Regions from separate parts of the Homo sapiens genome. Here all the other regions are reported to be linked to region 1. The links are microRNA targets in miRTarBase. Many come from high-throughput screens and were not tested one by one. Region 1 holds a microRNA gene; each other region holds the end of a gene's coding sequence.
The links. Region 1 holds the annotated microRNA hsa-miR-136-5p (ACUCCAUUUGUUUUGAUGAUGGA, at 1,139-1,161, shown strand). A microRNA usually pairs through its seed, bases 2 to 8, with sites in the 3' UTR of a target mRNA and lowers its output. Matches are read on the target gene's strand: a 7mer-m8 pairs with bases 2 to 8, a 7mer-A1 pairs with bases 2 to 7 and ends in A, and an 8mer does both.

Region 2: miRTarBase lists PLOD2 as a target of hsa-miR-136-5p. The part of its 3' UTR that is shown has no 7-base or 8-base seed match.
Region 3: miRTarBase lists GRIN2A as a target of hsa-miR-136-5p. Seed matches in the 3' UTR shown: 7mer-A1 at 2,334-2,340.
Region 4: the mRNA of SAMD7 is a reported target of hsa-miR-136-5p. Seed matches in the 3' UTR shown: 7mer-A1 at 2,424-2,430 and 8mer at 2,085-2,092.

The regions. Positions count from the first base shown.
Region 1 is chr14:100,883,578-100,886,752 of GRCh38, forward strand. MIR136 (microRNA 136) reads left to right here and starts at 1,125; the gene lies at 1,125-1,206. It overlaps RTL1 (retrotransposon Gag like 1), which reads right to left. Exons shown (of 4, transcript NM_001134888.3): 4 at 1-1,297. The coding sequence starts at 1,211. It overlaps MIR432 (microRNA 432), which reads left to right and starts at 906; the gene lies at 906-999. RefSeq lists a silencer at 2,115-2,409.
Region 2 is chr3:146,067,989-146,071,148 of GRCh38, forward strand. It overlaps PLOD2 (procollagen-lysine,2-oxoglutarate 5-dioxygenase 2), which reads right to left. Exons shown (of 20, transcript NM_182943.3): 19 at 3,054-3,160; 20 at 1,452-2,884. The coding sequence ends at 2,729. LNCSRLR (lncRNA sorafenib resistance in renal cell carcinoma associated) reads right to left here and starts at 1,197. Exons shown (of 2, transcript NR_146297.1): 1 at 831-1,197.
Region 3 is chr16:9,760,145-9,763,315 of GRCh38, reverse strand. It overlaps GRIN2A (glutamate ionotropic receptor NMDA type subunit 2A), which reads left to right. Exons shown (of 13, transcript NM_001134407.3): 13 at 1-3,171. The coding sequence ends at 167. Among named protein-coding and RNA genes, the nearest start is that of LINC01195, 310 kb to the right of the region's middle.
Region 4 is chr3:169,938,025-169,941,024 of GRCh38, reverse strand. It overlaps SAMD7 (sterile alpha motif domain containing 7), which reads right to left. Exons shown (of 9, transcript NM_001304366.2): 9 at 1,850-2,707. The coding sequence ends at 2,519. Among named protein-coding and RNA genes, the nearest start is that of SEC62, 27 kb to the left of the region's middle.

The DNA of each region.
Region 1 (3,175 bases):
ATGTCCGGATGGACTTCGCTGGGCAACCAGCTGCTGACCATCCACCTCTCTGGAGCAGGTGAGTCGATCCAGGTCAGGTTCCGGGGGCGGGCCTCGGGGGGCAGCCTGAGCATAGCTCTTCTCTCTGCCAGCTTCTCTTCTATTTGCAGGATGAGCACAATCAGACTGTCTAGGGAATCCGGCTGAGGGACCCGGAATAGATAGTGCCTGATCTCCTCGTTGAGCCCCTGGCACAAGTGGGCCTGCAGGACTTCATCTGGCCAGCCCAAGATGGGTACCAGGCTCTGGAACTCATCGATGTACTCAGTGGCAGAGCGGCCGCCCTGCCTGATGGTGAACATGGCCTCTTCTGCCACACGCAGTGCCTGGCGGTACTCAAACACTTCGGACATGGCCTCCAGGAAGGCTGGGAAGTCTCCGATCAGGGGGCTGTTTTCCTGCAGTAGAGCTTTGGCCCATTCTAATGCCAAGCCGGACAGGTGATTGATGACATAGCCAACTCTCAGACGGTCGTTATAGAACATTCTTGGGTAGCTCTGTAAGGTCAGTTGGCAGAGTACGATGAACTCGTGGAATTCTCTGCGATCGCCAGAGAAGTGCTTTGGGGCGGGCAGTTGGCCTGCATTGATCCCTTTGATCAAGATCTCTTCTGCTACTCTCTGTTGCTCTTTGAGGTCTTGCATTCGGAAGTACAGCGAGATGATGGACCTCACCATGGCCATAAGTTCTGCGGTTGAGTGCTCGGTCTGGTTTTGCTCTTGAGGAGTCTCCTCCCTTCCCGATTCCTTCAGGTCAGTGTGAGCCTCTTGTTCTTCTCGGGCTCCCGATGGGTTGACTGATGCTTCTTTCATCCTATCAGATGCTCCACTGAGTGGATCCCCCCTTGCCTGGTGTGAACCGTTGCATGACTCCTCCAGGTCTTGGAGTAGGTCATTGGGTGGATCCTCTATTTCCTTACGTGGGCCACTGGATGGCTCCTCCATGTCTTGGAGTAGATCAGTGGGCAGCTCTTCCATTTCCTGGAGTGGGCCACTGGGGGGCTCCTTCTTTTCCTGGGCTGGGCCGCTGGCTGGCCCTGCCTCTCCCCGCACTCCACTGCCCGACGTCGCCTCGGTGGTGTTGGATGAGCCCTCGGAGGACTCCATTTGTTTTGATGATGGATTCTTATGCTCCATCATCGTCTCAAATGAGTCTTCAGAGGGTTCTATCATTTCGTCGGATGGAAAGGAGTGTATTCTGAAGATTGGTAAGGTTGTGATGGCGTCCAGTCAGTAGCTGGGACCGTGGAGATCAGAACCTGGTGGTGGAAGGGGAGTGTGGGGAGTAAAGGCAGTAGTTTAGGATCTTGTGAAGTGGCAGTATCAGGGTCTCAAGGACAAATCAGATGCCCAACTAATCAGAGCAGAGAGAAATGGGGGAAAGCCTTCTTGTATCGAGCCAGCCTCTTTGGCTGGTCACTTGGGGTGCCCCCAGGGAGGGAAGATCTGTCAACCCCTGACCTGCCTCCCAGGCTTATTCAGTCTGCCTGTCCTGTCCTTTTCCTCCATAGATGTGAGAAATTCACAGCCCATAAATTCTGTGGCTGGGAGCAGCCACCGTGGCAGGCGGGTACCTGGCAGGGTGCACAGGCTGCTCCATTCCCCCCTGGCACATGCACCTGGTCAATCCTCTTTTCCTGCTTTGGTCACCTGAGAATCACAGAGGTCACATCTCAGCACCATCCAAAGCCACCCCTGGCAGGCTCAGGGCTCTGGAGCAAGCCCAGCCACCTTGGTTGTGGAGCGGGAATCTCTAGCAAAGATGCCTACTGTTTCACCAGTGCAGTGGAAGAGGAGAAAATGGGCACTTGGCCACTGTCCCGTCAGTTGGGTCAGCAGCCCAAAATAGTTCTTATTTCCTTCCCCATGTTCAAAATAGAAATTTCAGGGGGTGTGTACAGGTCTGGGTTTTTTTTTTTTTTTTCCATAAATTTTATAACATACCTACTATGTGCTGGATAACTGCATATTTGTTACTTGATTCTAACTCAGACTTTTGGCCAATTTCTCTTTCTCGATTTGGTCTCCTTCCAATGCTATGTTCTCCCGACCTCTGAGCTGTTGAGGAGATCTTCAAATAATCTCCTTCTCTTCCTACAATCTCCACTCTCCCAGGACTGCCCTCTTTGTGAGGCTTCTGGAACTTCACACATCTGGCCTCAATTTCACCAGTGCAAGCATATCTGCACGCCTCTCCAATCTTATCCTCCCAGGTCCCCTTCTTAACGCCAGTGGGTCTGGTCTCCTCTTTCTAGCAAATATCTTTTTCTCTCTGTTGCTGGTTGAGCCCTCCCAACAGACATGTATCTGGCAGAGTTGGGACATTGAGTGTGGGGGTTGGGGGGAACATGTGACATCTTTGGAATCTGACGGTCCCAGAGTGGATTTTTGGAAATCTAGTGTTGGGTGGTTTTAGTGGGCTGAGACAGAATTGAAAGGGAATGTCTTGGTTGGGGTTATTTGCACATTTCTTCTCTGCTGGGGCAGAGCAAATTAAGCTTTGATTATCTGATAGATTAACTGTAAAGCTACTGCTCTTTATAAATTTAACACCTTTTGTTACTTCTGAGTTTTCTTCTAAGCCACTGGACCCATCCGTAAAAAAAAAAAAAAAAACTGCGTTCCCCCTTACGTGAAACTCATTGGCTAAAATCCAAGCTTTCCAACAGGATACAAAATTCAGATCTGCTGTTTCTCAAAATTAAGTACACCCTTGTTAGCATGACACTTAAATTTGATCATGCAGTCTCTCTGATTAAAGCCTTCCACTGTTTATTTACTGTCTGCAATATTAAATCCAAACCTTCTAGCGTAAACATATCTGACATGTAAACTCACCAAAACTATTCTCTGGTTAAAATGTAAGGGCCTTAATATAATATAAAATTCTTATTTTGTCATTCCTCAAGGTAGAGATCACATTTTTTTAAAGCACAGTATACAAATCAGCATGGTATAGGAATTATAAGAATCATCATCATCATCATCATGATGTACATAGCACATTGCAGAAATTAACTCATTTCCTCTCCATAAAAGTCCTCTGAGATATGCATTATTACTGTAAAATTCCAAACCTCTAATATAAAATTCTAATTGAAATACAAATAAATAATTCTAATTGAAATACAAAAACT
Region 2 (3,160 bases), not on the chromosome of region 1:
ATTGTTGCAGATACACAATAAGCCCTTGGACTACATGTGCTTAAACTACGCGGGCTCATGTGTATGCCGGTTTTTTCTGTCTCTGCCACCCCTGAGACACCCTTCCTCTTCCCCTTCCTTCTCAGCCTACTCAGCGCGAAGACAACAAGGATGAAAACCTTTATGATGATCCACTTCCACTTAATGAATAGTAAATATATTTTATCTTTCTTTATAATTTTTTAAATAACGTTTTCTCTAGCTTATTGTAACAATACAGTGTATAATGCATATAACATATAAAATAAATGTTCATCAGCTGTTTATGTTATCAGTGAGGCTTCCAGTCAACAGTAGGTTATTAGTTGATAAGTGTTGAGGGAGTCAAAAGGTACATGTGGATTTTCGACTGCATGGGGATCAGTGCCTCTAACGCCCATATTATTCAGGGGATAATTGTTTATATATATGGGTGTGTGTGTGTATTTTTTTTAAAAAGCCTTTATTATATTGCATAAAATGAATGAATCAAACAATAGATGTACTTTCTGTATCTTCTGCTCTGTGTGTTTCAAGCTGTATTTTTCTCCATCCTTCCAATTCTACTCGTTTTCCGTTTTTCAAATTTTTTAATCTACTTATGGGAATTTTTCTAATTTTCTCTCAGTAATTATGAATCATCTTTTTAAAGCTACATTTTATATTATTTCATGGAATGTAGGATAAGAGGAAAGACAAAAAAACTGTGCTCAATAGACTACCTGGATCCCATTTCTGAAAACATGGCATGAGACTGAAATAGTTATGCTAAGTAACCACCCATGGATACCAAAATGGAAAATAACTAGTACCTGGGAGATGTCTTTGAACTGTACCACAAGAGATATTAAGCTGGCTTGCACTGGTAGGAACGAACCGATCTGCTTTTATAACCAGAGTCTGTTCCGATGAGTTGGCATCTACATCATACCAGGTGTTACATATTTTGAAAACCATTCCTGATGTACAGTAACATAATTCACAAATCATTACTAAAATGTCTCCTTATCCTAGTTGATGGATAGTAGAAATTTTCTTTGGGTATTAAGTGTCGCCAAAGAAGAGAACAGGAGTAGAACCAACTTCCTTATCTTTTTAAGTCCATCTCACAGTGACTATAATGTCTTCTTCATCAACATATCCTTGGTGCCTGGAACAGTGCCTGACCCATAATAGAGACCCAGAAAATATTAATAAACAAATAAACCTATATTGAATAACATTTGGCTTCTATTTTCTCACTTGGAAAACGAGTTAGATCAAATCCCTAGTCATCCTAAAATTGAAGATTTTATAATTTCATTTATAATTCAATAGTTTCGTATATCATTAAATCTACTAAGCAAAATGAAAAATCAAAGGCTTCATTCTTTCAGACAATTCCATCATGTATTCACGTTGGAAGATAAACACCAATAATAGAACAACAAAACTTTCTAAAATTATTTTATTTTTTATAATTTTCTAACACATGGTGTTAGAAAATGAATTTTGGCACCGTGATTAAGAATTTCTTTTCAAGTTTAACCTTTACATTAAAAACAGTAGCTACAATAAGGATATTTCAACCTTACTTAGAGAAGTGATAAAACATCAAGTCAACAAGTATTTTTGTTGGAGAATTTTTTTATAAGCGGGATAGAGGGAAGTTAACATAGACACTCAGAAGAATAAAATGGAAATTATGCCAGGAAGATAAAAAAGCAAATAACCCTCCCCCCAAAAAAAGAATAAGGAGCGAGACAAAGGGCAAAACGGAAGAAGCAAGGCTCAACAACTTTGTTTTCCTGATATAAAATTCAAGTACTTAAAAAGTTTTTTAAAAAATAATTAAATGCACTACTCATCTCAATGAAATTTTTCGTTTTCCTATTTTCTAGAACTTTCTAAAAAAGGAAACAAAGCAAAAACAACAACAAAAAAAACCTGTTTGACTTAAGGACACTTGCTGATCTTGACACTTGATAATACTTTAAGAAATGGAAAGGTTTTCCTAAATCTAATACCTGCTTAATATAATCCACTTTGGAAGATTCATCTGAAAGAAACATAGGGTTTGATTTTTAATACTAATATAAAATAATCTGCCTTCCAATCAAAACAAAAATGTTTTCAACTGTATACGCTCCTCGGTTGTGTTTTGTACCATTTTCTTGAGGAAAACGTTGTGTAATTCTTTGTGTGTTCCCTTAGTAACTACTGTAAATAAGACCTGCATAGGTGTTCAGAAAAATACTTAGTTGCATACAAATCCAGTTAGAATCTGATTTTCAAGGTTTTACAACATGGTAATTTTCATTTATATCCATTTTGTCTACATTTCCTCTATATTTTGATAAATAAAAATCTTCCCATGCTTTTTTTAAATAAGAAAATATTATTAGTCTTGTTATTTGTACCTAAATATTTTATCAATTTGAAACACAAATTCATAAATTGTCATTATTCTCAGAGGCAACAAAGCATAGAAATAAATATTTAAGTTTTTTCTTTCTTTTCTTCTTCAATCTGTGTTTTAAGGCTCAGAGCAGACATTAAGAAATATCAAACAATTTTTTATAAAAAGTTTTTCAAATGTTTGGCCCAAAGTGAAGTTGTTCTGTTGATGTTATTTAAATATTCCTCTCATCTTCTCAGCCACAACTTCAAAGACGTGTTCATGCCAGTCATTCATCCAAAATAAATTTCAATTCAATGAAAAGTAAATAACTTAGGGATCTATAAATGACACTGCAATGTATCTTGTTCCATTTTTAACAGGAAGTCCTTCATGCAAATGTGTGAGTCTCCCAGGATGCATGAAGCTCCAGCCTTTTCGTGGTGACTCAATAGAGCAATTGTACCTTAGAAATTTGCAACCACCTCCCTAAAAAAGTTAAAATGAAGAAATACATCAGATTATATTTAACCAGTGGCAAAATTCAAATTATGTCATTTGAGCAAAATTTAAAAAAGAAACTAAGGCCTAAGGCAAAGTCCTTTTCATAATGATATATTTCTTTTGAAAAATCTAAAAACACAAGAGTCATAATTACCTGAAAGTCTTCTCCCACGTTATTAAGTGCAATGTTTATGGTAAATGTAGAAGCATCATGATGAGGACGAAGAGAACGCTGTCGTTCAGGGGAGTATTTTACTACAA
Region 3 (3,171 bases), not on the chromosome of region 1:
CGTACTGTTCCAGGGACAGTCGGGGCCACAATGATGTGTATATTTCGGAGCATGTTATGCCTTATGCTGCAAATAAGAATAATATGTACTCTACCCCCAGGGTTTTAAATTCCTGCAGCAATAGACGCGTGTACAAGAAAATGCCTAGTATCGAATCTGATGTTTAAAAATCTTCCATTAATGTTTTATCTATAGGGAAATATACGTAATGGCCAATGTTCTGGAGGGTAAATGTTGGATGTCCAATAGTGCCCTGCTAAGAGGAAGAAGATGTAGGGAGGTATTTTGTTGTTGTTGTTGTTGGCTCTTTTGCACACGGCTTCATGCCATAATCTTCCACTCAAGGAATCTTGTGAGGTGTGTGCTGAGCATGGCAGACACCAGATAGGTGAGTCCTTAACCAAAAATAACTAACTACATAAGGGCAAGTCTCCGGGACATGCCTACTGGGTATGTTGGCAATAATGATGCATTGGATGCCAATGGTGATGTTATGATTTCCTATATTCCAAATTCCATTAAGGTCAGCCCACCATGTAATTTTCTCATCAGAAATGCCTAATGGTTTCTCTAATACAGAATAAGCAATATGGTGTGCATGTAAACCTGACACAGACAAAATAAAAACAGTTAAGAATGCATCTGCACTGTAGTGCGATTGACATGTGCAAGAGATTAGGAAGTTTGGCTCGTAACAGTTTCAGCTTTCTTGTTATGCCTTCCATCACAGCCCAGGCTCACCCCAAGAACTCCAGGCTCCCCTAAAGAATAGCAAATCAGTGTGTTCGTGATGACTGTGCTACCTTCATTATAGTTCATTTCCAAGACACATCTGGAGCCAAAGGCCCGAGGGACCCTCAGGTGGGGAGAGCTACAGGAATCTCTTTGGATGTTGATGTGTGTTTCTCTCACCCTCGGCTTCGATGGTCTTGTTCAGAGCTGCATAAACTAACACATTTATGTCTCCGAGATCTAAGTGTGGATCTTCTGTCTGTGACACAGTGGCCATTGTAGTTTATCCCGAAGACGCCTATGTACGTAAGTTTGCATTTCCTCCCTTCTGGTGATGACTCAGGGTTGTATAGTATCTGTTACCCCTTCCCTCCCAGAGTAACCATAACTCGTTCCGTTTCCAAACAGCCATGGTGGTGTCCAATTAGCTGTGTATCGCTCTTCCCAGAGTTGTTAATGTGGTGACATGCACCAACAGCCGTATGTGTACTGTGATCTGTAAGAAGTACAATGCCATCTGTCTGCCGAAGGCTAGCATGGTTTTAGGTTTATCTTCCTTCACATCCAGAAATTCTGTTGGACACTCACTTCCACCCCAAACTCCTCAAATCAAAAGCCTTCAAAACACGAGGCACTCTTGGATCTACCCTGAGTATCCTCCAAACTGTGGATACAGTTTAGTGAGACAAGCAATTTCTCCCTTCTGAGTTATTCTCTCTGTTGGTGGCAAACCACTTCATAGCACCAACAGAGATGTAGGAAAAATTCCTCAAAGTATTTGTCATTTCTGAGTCGCCTGCATTATCCCATTCTTATTCTCCTCAAACCTGTGCATATATGACATGAAATGATATCCATTTTTTTTTTAAGTTAGAGACAGAGAGGGGAATACTTATGCATGGGGAGCCTGTTAGCACAGTGCCTGCCACAAAAACAAGTGCCCCCGACAAGATAGTTGCTATGTTATGACACTTTCTCAGATCAGGATTTTCTAGTTTAAAAATTAAATATCATAAAACCAGCAAATAATATTAACTAAACCTTTTATATAGTTCTACTCTGTTAATTAGTGTATTTCATGTACATGAATATTTTTGAAGTATTTGGGATAACTAGCCATCAGTGTTTGCAGAAGACCTCAGTCTGTTTTGGGCCATTACGGAAACACTAAGCTAATGTAGACTCGCCTGGCCATTTCCTGGTTTCCTCCTGCATTCTGCTTTACATTCTTGAAGAAAGGGATAAAGTGGCAGGTTGAAAAATTATCCCATTTCTTCTCCTCATGGTGTGCGTTCTGTTTTGTAAGTATTATTTTCTTGCATGTGGGCAAGTGTCAGGGATGATTCCCTTAAAGCTCAAGGATGCATGGAATAGCTCCATCTTTGGGAAAGTACACCTGACCTACAGTGTTCCTATAATGAAAAGTGGTTGCAATAAATTTCAGGGTCAATCATAGGGAGACAGAGGGAGGCAGTGGGTGAGAGGAGCTTCCTTTCATTTTTGAAAGGCAGAAGGGGCTGACTAGGTGCTGGGGATGCATGTGCTTGAAAATGACATTTTATTTCCCGGATGCTGTACCTCTGCTGCCCCAAGACCCAGCCATGGAGAAGCCTGGATCGAAGGGCCCAGAATAGTCACCCCAACATCTGATCCTAAATCTGAATCTCCATGACTGTGTAGCCTTTTAGCCCTTTCTACCTTCTGCCCTTCCAGTGCATTCCAGACCTTAATCCACCCCAGCAAGGATCGCCTCCATTTCCTCATGAGTCTGGGATGTTTTGACATGAATGAATTAAAAAGTCTTCCCAGAATACAGAAGAGTGATTTGTCGTCAAGCCAAAGAGGCTTTCTGTCTTCCTCTGGTGTCCTCTAAACCCAGGGGGCTGCCAAATGCCACAGAGACCTCCAGGGAGAGTGAGAGTTATACTTGGACTGACTTCATCGGTCAGAAAGCCTTCCCCTAACAGCAGCATTATTTCTGCTATTAACCCCATACATCTCTGGATAAAGAAACTGAAAACGTGGCCTTTGGAAGAATCAACAGTAATGTTGTGAAAAAAATATATATTCTTTTCACTGACCGAAGTGTTTTTTCAAATAAATAATCAGAAATGTTATGCTACACAAAGTTTATGGTATCCCTTCTCTACTAATTCAATGACTCTTCAATGTGATGATCCCAAGCAAAAAAAAAAAAAAAAAAAAAAAATCAACTACTGATCAGATGGTCAATTTCTAAGGAAAAGATGTAGAGTTATTCAAAGGTCATCTAAGTCAGTTCAGTCTTTGCAAAAAGAATATCAGGAATGTAACGTCCAGTGGTAAATGGAACCCACAGTATGAGAAGTAACAAGAATTAAATAGGAAGCCTGGAAGCCTGAGACTATAGATCTATCACAGAAGATTCCCGTAACATATCCCAGCTCTGAGTTCTTAGAT
Region 4 (3,000 bases), not on the chromosome of region 1:
GAGTACTGAGAGCTGGGGAGGGCCTCCTTTACATGTGTTCTTCTGGTTCTTTTTTAAATGCATGGACCTAAAATTAAGCACAGTGGTTTTTTCTGGTGATAGTACATGCCAAGATGGCATATCGGAACATTTTCCTTAGAGCAACATTGAGATACATCTGTGCAAATCAATCAATTACCAACTCAATGGACTTATTTAGCAGCAATACGAAACTCAAAAGTCATCATAGTGATTGAACCTCATTATCACTTTGCCATTAAAAATATTAAGCATTTCTTTTTATCCCTCACCACAGCATCTGTAACTCACACCTGGCATTTTGTGAAACTTCTGTTTGCTGGGTAGTATAGCAGGTGAAATGTCACGTGACCAAACAGTTCTTCGGTACACTGAGCATCAGATGAATAAAAAGAGGGAAAGAGGAAGTGAAGCATTTTTCAAGTTATTTTTAGTAAAAATCTTGCCACTCGTTATTCATTGGCTTATTGCCATCTTAAATAACTTAAAAAAGACATATTTTTGAAATATGGGAGGATTTTCTGTCTGTCCCTGTCTCTCTTTCAGCAAAGGGACCAAGAGAGTAAAGTAACAATTCACAAATACATGTGATGGTTTCATACAGTTTTTGTCAGAAGAAAAACCTGTTGTCTTAGTAAAAATGAAAGAAATGGAAGCTTAACTAAATTAGGCTTATAGGAAAATGATTTCAAAAGCCCACCTTCCAAATCAAAAAGTGAATGTGGGTAGCATGCAATTTGTGTTTACTAAATGCAACTTAATTTGTTTGTTTTAGTACTCCATTATTGTGAAATAAATTACTTCAAAACTTAGTGGCTGAAAACAACACACATTTATTATCTTACAGTTTCTGTGGGTCAGAAATCCAGAGTGGCTTAGCTGGGGGCCTCTGGCTGAGGGTCTCTCATGAGCTGCCATCAAGCTGTGGGCTGGAGCTGAGGCACCTTCAAGTTTCCTTACATGGCTGTTGGCAGCGTCAGAAGATCCATTTCCAAGTTAATGTGGGGCTCTCCACAGGGCTGCCTGGAGACAAAGAATCTGGCTTCCCCAAGAGTGAGAAATCCAGAGAGAGAGAGAGAGCGAGCACCCAAGACAGAAGCCACAAAAGTGACATCCCATCTATCACGCCTTCTGTATTCTGTTCATTAGAAAAGCCTCAATACCCCCAGCCCGCCCTCAAGCGGAGTAGATCACACAAGGGCTTGGGATACCAGGATGCAGGGATCCTTGTGGGCCATCTCAGAGGCTGCTTTCTAGAGTTTGCTCATGTTAAATGTAAATTTTTTAAATAGAAAATATATTCTCATGGTTAAAAATTCAAAATGTTCAAGAATGTATATGGTAAGAAGACTTCATATCCTGTTAGCCAATCCCCTCCTTGAGCAAACTGTCATCATTTTCTTGTTTATCCTTTCAGAGACATTCTGTTAAACATCAAGTTGAAAATGTGGGATTCCACAGGGTGTGAGCAGAGAGCACTCCACCTTGCCAGCTCAAACCTGCTTTGCAGAGATAACTTCCCCACCCCTTGGATGAAATCTCAAGTGGATACTATGACTTTTCACCTCCCTCTCAGATAAAAAGCAGTCCTCCAGTCACTTTCAGTCATAACATAGTTGTATTTCAGAAATAAAATACCTAGTCATGAATAATATTCAAACTCGATTTTTTTTTTTTTTTTTGAGACAGAGTCCTGCTCTGTCACCCAGGCTGGAGTGCAGTGGCACGATCTCAGCTCACTGTAGCCTCCGCTTCCCAGGTTCAAGCAATTCTCCTGCTTCAGCCTCCCGAGTAGCTGGGACTACATTCGCGCACCACCAGGCCTAGCTAATTTTTTTTTGTATTTTTAGTAGAGACGGGGTTTCACCATGTTGGCCAAGCTGGTCTTAATCTCCTGACCTCATGATCCGCCCGCCTCAGACTCCCAAAGTGTTGGGATTACAGCCGTGAGCCACCGCGCCTGGCCAAAACTCGAAAATTTAAGGTTAAAGCTTCTCACCTTCCCTAGCTTGGGCCTGCTTCACGCTGGAAATCTGGAATGAGAAGAGATGGAGTCGTGGTCAGCTTCTCCATTTCTGTTCTGTACTTCTGCCCGTTCTCTTCTGCCTCTCTGTGGTTTCATTGGGTTGCCTTTATCTCTTTCAGGGTTTGGGAATGGAAAATGAGTGAAAAAAGGGAGGGAGCTCTTTTTTCAGTTTCAGCTCTTTTGGTTTCTTCAGAGATTTCTTCATGGAAACATCCATCTGCAGCTTTCTTGATGTTTGTAAATCTCCCCTTCATTAGCATTTGCTCCTAAGGATGCGTCTCCAGTCATTTGGTGCTGGGGTCATTCAGCCCTGGCAGGGAAGCCCCTTGGGCAAGTCTCCTCCATGAAAGCCCCAGAAAGGCTGACTTTCTCTTCTCATTCTCCATCCAGTACTGGGAAATCCTCACACATCCTTTGTAATATCCTAGGCTCTTTGGAAAACTGGCTAAGACTATTCTTCCTCCTTGAGGGCTTTTAGTTTCTCATACTACCTCGCTCAATTCCTTTAGGAATTATTGTATCCTGGGGACAAAAAATGTTCATTGTATCACTCCAGGAATTAGGATCCAGAAGAGGGGATGTATCTGCTGGTTGATCAAATGCTTGTCTTATAGGAAATGAAAGAGTTTTCTTGTAGAACATACTTCCCACATGCTGAGATACCTTTTAAGACAAAATAATTATAGTAATCAATTCTATGAATTTTTTTCATTAACTCAGCATTAAACACACATCACAGAGAGGCTGAGGTAATTTCAGGCATGGAGCATCTATTAACATATAGTTGTGGGGGTCACAATTGTAGGATGTGGTGGGCTTTTTCTTTCTCTCAGAATTATAGTGTTTACAGATGTAAAACAGGGTATCAAGGTGGCTCTAACCAGGGGCAGCTGAGCAATAGTGGAATTACTGAGGGGGAGAAAAGTAGATGGTGAGGTCAGGACGGTAATGGTGGT